Homo sapiens: one gene and its partner. The protein of the gene in region 1 interacts with the protein of each later gene in a pairwise test. Each region holds a gene or a part of one and is shown in the gene's direction. Other genes may lie near its edges.

What was found.
Region 2: the proteins of HOXD9 (region 1) and ETV5 interact in a two-hybrid assay, tested with the Homo sapiens proteins (one large-scale study listed by BioGRID and IntAct).

The regions. Positions count from the first base shown.
Region 1 is NC_000002.12:176,121,508-176,125,745, forward strand, and holds HOXD9 (homeobox protein Hox-D9), read left to right. Parts: upstream 1-1,211; 5' UTR 1,212-1,261; coding exon 1,262-2,078; intron 2,079-2,426; coding exon 2,427-2,668; 3' UTR 2,669-3,430; downstream 3,431-4,238. UniProt on the Homo sapiens protein: Sequence-specific transcription factor which is part of a developmental regulatory system that provides cells with specific positional identities on the anterior-posterior axis.
Region 2 is NC_000003.12:186,078,042-186,081,849, reverse strand, and holds part of ETV5 (ETS translocation variant 5), read left to right. Parts: intron 1-674; coding exon 675-804; intron 805-902; exon of another isoform or gene 903-1,290; intron 1,291-1,745; coding exon 1,746-2,033; intron 2,034-2,040; exon of another isoform or gene 2,041-2,818; intron 2,819-3,635; exon of another isoform or gene 3,636-3,808. UniProt on the Homo sapiens protein: Binds to DNA sequences containing the consensus nucleotide core sequence 5'-GGAA.-3'.

The DNA.
Region 1 (4,238 bases):
GAGCAAGGAATATGCCCTCCGCTGCCGGCGCCCCGGCCGCTTTTGTCTGGGCTCCCAGCCGGGCTTCCGAGGCTTTGTACCATGGATTTGGGAGTGACAATGGGCATTTCCCTCAGATTCAAGGCTGCTCAACCTCACCTCTGTAGGGGGAAAAAAATCAGAAGGGAGTGTCCCAAGGACCTAGCCATTCGGCCGAATTTTTTAGACATTTTGGGAGTCTCCTCCGAGGCCTTTAAGTGCGAACCGCGCGAAGCGGCCCTGCCCGGGGAGACTCGCTGAGGCAGGGCTGAGGCGGCGGGCGGGAGCAAGCTGCTCTAGCATTTGGGTTCTGCCCTGTGGCGTGTTCTCTTCCAGGGCCTTTCCAGCATCATCGGAGAAGACGAAGCACCCTGGCCGCCACTGTCCGTGCTGCGCCAACTCGCCCGGCCGCCCGCCCTTCCGAGGGCAGGCAGAAGCCCCTCTGTGTCCTCCACCGCCGCGCCCCGGCTCGCCCCTCGGGCCGCGGCGTGTGCCCAGCCTCACGTCGGGGTGTGTGTGGCCGCGCGGGCGTGTGTGAGTGTGGCAGGGGGAGGGGGCCCTCCGATCTGCTCCATCCGTCCGTTTTATTAGGGACACATTAATCTATAATCAAATACACCTCATAAAATTTTTATTGAAAGGCATAATATCATTACAGAGGTCTTCCACCTGTTTTAAACAACACGACAAGCTGTGAGCAAGCGTGTGTGTGGGGATGTGTGGGGAGGGGTGGGTGTGAGTAGGGAGAGAGGCGAGGGGAGAACAGCTCCCCTCGGGCGCTAGGGGCCGCCCCGAGGGCCCGCCTGCCTCGGGCGACACCGGCCTGGCGCCCCCGCGGCCGCTCCGTGTGCCCTGGACTCGCCGCCCGCGGCTCGGAAGCTGGAGAGTCAGCGACGGGGCCCGACTGCGGGACCGAGGGCTGCAAGAAGAAGCGAACAAATAGTCCCCAGCGCCTCCTCTGGATGCGGTCGCGTCTGTGGTCCTGGCAGCCGCTGGGCGGGCCAGGCCAGGTCGGGCCGGGCCGAGCCGGGCACATGGACCTGGGCCTGCGGGCTCTAATTGCGGCGCTTATGTTGATGATTTTTTTTTTAATCACAGCAGCCCCCAGTTTAGCGGACTGATTTACTCCCGGTATTGGTAAATATGATCACGTGGGCCGCGCGACCAATGGTGGAGGCTGCAGCCTGCGAACTAGTCGGTGGCTCGGGCGCCGGCGGGGAGCTGCTCGGCGGCGGACAGTGTAATGTTGGGTGGGAGTGCGGGACGCCTCAAAATGTCTTCCAGTGGCACCCTCAGCAACTACTACGTGGACTCGCTTATAGGCCATGAGGGCGACGAGGTGTTCGCGGCGCGCTTCGGGCCGCCGGGGCCAGGCGCGCAGGGCCGGCCTGCAGGTGTGGCTGATGGCCCGGCCGCCACCGCCGCCGAGTTCGCCTCGTGTAGTTTTGCCCCCAGATCGGCCGTGTTCTCTGCCTCGTGGTCCGCGGTGCCCTCCCAGCCCCCGGCAGCGGCGGCGATGAGCGGCCTCTACCACCCGTACGTTCCCCCGCCGCCCCTGGCCGCCTCTGCCTCCGAGCCCGGCCGCTACGTGCGCTCCTGGATGGAGCCGCTGCCCGGCTTCCCGGGCGGTGCGGGCGGTGGCGGTGGTGGTGGAGGCGGCGGTCCGGGCCGCGGTCCCAGCCCTGGCCCCAGCGGCCCAGCCAACGGGCGCCACTACGGGATTAAGCCTGAAACCCGAGCGGCCCCGGCCCCCGCCACGGCCGCCTCCACCACCTCCTCCTCCTCCACTTCCTTATCCTCCTCCTCCAAACGGACTGAGTGCTCCGTGGCCCGGGAGTCCCAGGGGAGCAGCGGCCCCGAGTTCTCGTGCAACTCGTTCCTGCAGGAGAAGGCGGCAGCGGCGACGGGGGGAACCGGGCCTGGGGCAGGGATCGGGGCCGCGACTGGGACGGGCGGCTCGTCGGAGCCCTCAGCTTGCAGCGACCACCCGATCCCAGGCTGTTCGCTGAAGGAGGAGGAGAAGCAGCATTCGCAGCCGCAGCAGCAGCAACTTGACCCAAGTAAGTGCAAAAGAAATTGCCCCCTGATTTATTGCTGAAACCTGTAAGGCTCGAATGTGCAAAACTGATAGTTTTACTAACCTATAAAAACGTCTAGACGCCTACCCAAGCCTAGGCGAACAACATGCATCCATAAAAAGAGCTTCCCATAACCACCTACCCTGGGCGCTCAGTTAGTACGGTAAACAGAGCGCGAGCATTAAGGCTTTTTATGATAATTCCCCACAAGTTGTGAAAAGCGACCATCCTTGGTGAAATTAATTTAACGACCTCTCTTCCCCACCCTGTGGTCTCTCCCTGCCTCCCCTCCTCTCCTCTCTCCCCGTCTCCAAACCTCCCTCTTTGTAGACAACCCCGCCGCGAACTGGATCCACGCTCGCTCCACCCGGAAAAAGCGCTGTCCCTACACCAAATACCAGACGCTTGAGCTGGAGAAAGAATTCCTCTTCAACATGTACCTCACCCGGGACCGGCGCTACGAGGTGGCCAGGATTCTCAACCTAACAGAGAGACAGGTCAAAATCTGGTTTCAGAACCGTAGGATGAAAATGAAAAAGATGAGCAAGGAGAAATGCCCCAAAGGAGACTGACCCGGCGCGGTGCTGGCGGGAGCGCTCAAGGGCAGCGGATTTGTTGTTGTTGCTGTTTTCCTTTGTGGGTGTTTGGTGCTTGATTTCCAGAAACTCTCCAGCGACTTGGACTTCTTCTTCTTTTTTTTTTTCTTTTTAGATAGAAGTGACTGTGTGGTTGGTCTCTGAGGTATTTGGGGGACTCTGTATTTGCTCGTTTACGTGTTGGAAAAACCAAGTGGCTTTGGGGTTTCGCCCTATCCCACTCCCTCTCTTTCCTGCTCCATTGGTTCCTTAAGAAATGCTATATTTTGTGAGTGCAAGCTGGCTTGGGGAGCCCTCTCTTGTGTAAATGTCCCCCATGTTTCTGAAAAGTGCTGTAGTTTAGTCCCCTCACCCCCAGCACTGCCCAAACAGGGGCCAAGTGCGCCCCAATTCCAAGAATGAAGGCAGAGCGACAACAGTGCGGACACCCCGGCTGCTAGCCCACGGTGAAGCCCGGCGGGGTTGCCCACCAGTTGCGAAAGCCCCCTTTCCTCAGGGAGCACGCGGGACCTCGGTGGAGATCTCCAGTGAGGCTTAGAGGAGCCCAGGGCCTCGGGCGGGTTGGGGTTTGTCCTCAGTGCATTGGACGCGCTGCTCTCTCCCCTGAAGGCTGGGCTCGCGTGGGCGGCCGCGGGTGGTGGCCCTCCCGGTTCCTGCCCGAGGACCAGTTGTAAATGTTACTGCTTCCTACTAATAAATGCTGACCTGATCAAATGGAGCCCAGACGCTGGCCCTAAACATTGTGTGCCTGCTTTCTCTGCCTCTCTGCAAAATATCACACTCAGGATATTTCTCCTCTACCCCTGGGAGTGAGACATTGTTAAAAATTCAGGGCCCTTCCACCTGACAGATCTCTCTGATGTGTCTCTGCCTTCTCTGCCTCACATCCCTTTGTGTAGGCAGATGCAGCAGCACAGACCCTGTGGGGGGACATTGGTGCCTCCCCAAGCCTGGTTCAAGGTCCTCCACGAACTCTGTGCTTGGGCCCAGTGTTAGCCTTGCAGAAGCGCCCAGAAGAGCCAGCAGGCCCCAGAAGCCAGGCACTTTCAGGCTGGGGCTTGGGTACACAGCACCCTAACCTTCCCTGGGCTCCTGAAGCCCCAGATGCCAAACCCCTCTCCAAACAAGGGAAAGGCCAACTCTACACTCTGGAGCAACTGTCCCAGCTCGGTGGGGCTAGCTGGCTCCGGGAGGTCCCAGCTGGTCAGGCTGTGAGCTTCTGCTCCTCCCCACCAAAGCCCCAAAGTGACCTTAGCGATCAAAATGGTCAAGGCTCTCCTCCCCAGCCACCTCCATTTCACCGCCCCCTTCCCCCCACCCAGCTTCTGTGTATGTTTAGCCCCCAGCTTGGCCCTCTGAGGGCTGCATTCAGGGGCTAAAATGAAGGTCATTGTAAGTGAGGGTTTGGGTGAGCACAGCATTTGCAGGCCAAAGAGGCAGCACTGCCAAGTGGCCTGAGCTGGGTGGAAGGTGGGGGCGGTGGCAGAGATCTTGGGGGATCCCAATGAAAGAGGGGACGCGAAGAAAAAGCATAGGGGGGCTGGGA
Region 2 (3,808 bases), on another chromosome or scaffold:
TGGAGCAGATGTTGTAAGCACAAAGGTAGCCAGGCTTTCTGCTTTCTGTATTCATTAGCCTTTCCTAGGTGGTGGATTGGTCTGTTGTTTTATTCCTTTGCTTTTAAAATTTTTGGAATGCCTCTAAAGTTGAGTATTTCTTGCTGAGAGCTGATATTTAAAGTTACTTGAGAAAGGACTTTTTAAAAATTCTATATTTAATTTGTAAATATGCATCTGAATAAGAAATATATTTGCCACAGCAATTTTAAGCCTTTGATAAGCTTAAATGTGTTGGTAATGTCTACCAACACATTTTTGGTCGTTTTGTCCTTTTTGGAAACAAAATTCTTCATGTCTGCAGCCACTTGCATTTTTGGTGGAGACCCATTACCTGCAAGGTTTTTAAGGATTTTGCAGCTTCTGGAAAGCAAGACCCATGACCAAAGAAATTTGGGAAAAAAGACTTGGCTAATTAAAAGTATCAGATGATGATACTTTTTCTGACTTTGAAGAATTTAATTGGCTTTGGATGGGAGGTTGTGTGTTTAAGCGTTTTGCTTTTTCTGACATGTGACTTGACATGAGTTCCAAGAACAATCAGCTAGTTAGAAGGTTTGCAGAAGGAAGCATTGTGCTCCCTGTTAATCAGCTGTTCTCTCTCTATTCCCCTCTCATCCCTCTTCTGATTTCAGTGGTGCTTCATGCCCCACCTCCAACCAAGATCAAACGGGAGCTGCACAGCCCCTCCTCTGAGCTGTCGTCTTGTAGCCATGAGCAGGCTCTTGGTGCTAACTATGGAGAAAAGTGCCTCTACAACTATTGGTGAGTGGGCAAGAGGAGTCGAAGAAAGGCTGCCCAGAAAGGCTCTGGAAGTAGCCATCAAGCTGAATGTTCCTTCCCAGTGTTACTTACCCAGCAGACCCTGTGGTAAAACATATCCTTCTTTCATGGCAGTGTCATCCTCCGGGTGTAGTCCAGTCCCCTTGGGATCATTGTACTGCACACAAAAGAAAACCATTAAAAACCTTGTGGCTCTACAGAGCACTAAGTTCATAGGGTACCCAGTCCTTCTAGGGAAAGAGTCTCAATCCTGGGATACTTGATCTGTGGCTTTGAGGCAGGTAATATATACTTCTTCATGTCTATCATATGTTAATGTGAACTTTAAGCACCAGAGAAGTAATCTCCAAATCAGAATATATGAAAAAGTCTTGAAGCTTGTGCCCTTTACTTAAGAATATCCAGGCCCCAGGAATGAAGCTTTAATTTTAAATCATTCTTTGCTCTAGAAGATAAACATAGATTTGCCTGAAAGGGGGAGGAGAAGAGTTGTTAATTCAAATGATGTCACAGCACAAACAGACCTTCAACACATATTCTGACTAATTCCTGGGAACCCTGGAAATAGTTGGGAGAGGGGACCAGAGAACACCTGGCAAACATACATTCTCCCCTCACCCACCCACCCTACACAGGCATACACGGAGAATTCTTTTAGAAGGAGGGAAAAAGGAAACCGGAAGCAGAGGCTAAAATTATCCTTGAGAAAAATCACTAGAAGTGTTAAACAAGTCCCTGTGACGCAGTGTGTTTGTCACTTTTCAGAGGTACAAATATCCCCTCGGGGCTACGAGCGATTTAACTATGTTAATGCTGTTATTTCCTGGCAACAATGGGCTGCAAACTAGCTTTCTGCTGGACCTGGTAACCATGCTAATGGCTTCATTTCAGCTTAATGGTTCCTTCTCTTTTTCTGTTTACAGTGCCTATGATAGGAAGCCTCCCTCTGGGTTCAAGCCATTAACCCCTCCTACAACCCCCCTCTCACCCACCCATCAGAATCCCCTATTTCCCCCACCTCAGGCAACTCTGCCCACCTCAGGGCATGCCCCTGCAGCTGGCCCAGTTCAAGGTGTGGGCCCCGCCCCCGCCCCCCATTCGCTTCCAGAGCCTGGACCACAGCAGCAAACATTTGCGGTCCCCCGACCACCACATCAGCCCCTGCAGATGCCAAAGATGATGCCTGAAAACCAGTATCCATCAGAACAGAGGTGGGTGTTGATCTGGGCTTCTTCCTTAATTGTCTCCCTCACTCCTATCCTTTCTCACTGGGAGAGGGGAAGCAGTTTGTCTTATTTACCAGGTTCCTAAAAAGTTATCATTACATTGAGGCAGCTTGTGAGGCAAGACTAATGATAATACGAATATGACTGTTTATATACCACCCTGTTCCCAAGGTACTCCAGATGGTTGATGGACTACGACATCCTTATAAAGTAGGTAAGGGAGAGGTAACTGGTATTCTCCCGTCTCACAGAACTAGAGGAAGAATGACTTGCCAGGATAGTCTTGTCCCTCACTGAGGGCAGGTTCCTGACTCCTCATTGGATGCTGCCTACTATTAATAGAATTGAACTTCAGTTATTACCATTTCACTTACATATAAGGGACAATTGCTGATTTATACAAGGTAATATTACTTATCTGATTTTAACATGTTTTAACAGTAGGAGATTAGCTAAGGACCTTATTTGTACATCTGCTTTTGAAATAGAAATCTCCTGGTTACACTGCAGGTGGTTTTTACATTTCTACAGGCATTGAGGCATCAGGAGTAACTTGTCCAGAGTCATTCATTTGTCAAAAAAGTGTGTGAAGGGAACCTTCTCTGCACACTCCAAACCTGACCTCTTTATCTGTGGTATTCTAGAATCTCGGATGCTTGTGGCCTTCTTTTATAGAAGATGTGCTGGGGGCCTGTCTTTATTTCAAGTTTCTCTGGGATAGGGGGGTAGTTGTCAACAATATTACCAAAGGATGCAAGATGGTGGCCATGGTATTTCATATCTATCTATCTTGTGTTAGGTGGATCGGTGTGGGGGCCACAATGGGGCGGGAGTGGGAAGAATATATGAGTATACCTTTCCCAGGCCTGGTCCATTCCAGATGCCTACCAGTATTTACTTGGAGGTCATTTTATTTCTAGATGAAATGCAGGGGAAAAAATAAGGTCCCTTTGTCTGGTTCTGATCCCCTTCCCGTTTTGCTCTGAAAGTCACCATTAAGAACGGCAAAATATGGCTGGTTGCTGTTTATTCCTTGGTTAGGCCAAGGAACACGAACGCCTGTGTTACACAGGGCTCAAGGGGTGAGCACTGACGGGGTTGTGGGGGGCTGGCTCTGGAGTGGGCCTCTATTGCCACCGGGGACTCATCTGGAGGACACAGCTGCCGCTGAGCTTTTGGCAATTGTTACCTTGTACTAACAACCTGTACTTGTGCAGAAGAATTTGGTTACTTGGTTTTTTATGTAAAAATTGTAGACTTTTTTTTTTAAGTTGGCAACTAATTCAAATTAAAAACAACACCTCTGCAGACTAAACAAAACTTCTCTGGGCAAAATCACCCTGCAGGCCTGCCAATTTGTGAACTCTGGCCTAGATATCATTTTTATTTCAATGGTTTTTTGGTGTTTTTAAACAGCATCTTGCTGATTTTCTGCAAGGGTTATGGGGAAATTGGGGAGGAAGTGTGGGGTCGAGTATATATTCAGTATTTGAAACTCTTAGCAAACTTCTATTTGTTATACCATGAACTGTAAAAGAAAATTCCTTTATCTAATATTTCCCCCTCAATCCTTGTTTTTTATCCAAGGGGCTTATGTAACATACTGTATTAACAGTTAACTGAGTTGGGAGACAAATATCCTAGTTCTCCTGGAGAATTGGGAGATGGGTAGCCCCAGTCTCAGCTGTGAAATAAGCCTGTCTCCAGTCCACCCAGCCCCCTGAGAAGGAAGGAGTTTTGGATTCCTGGGATTGATGAGT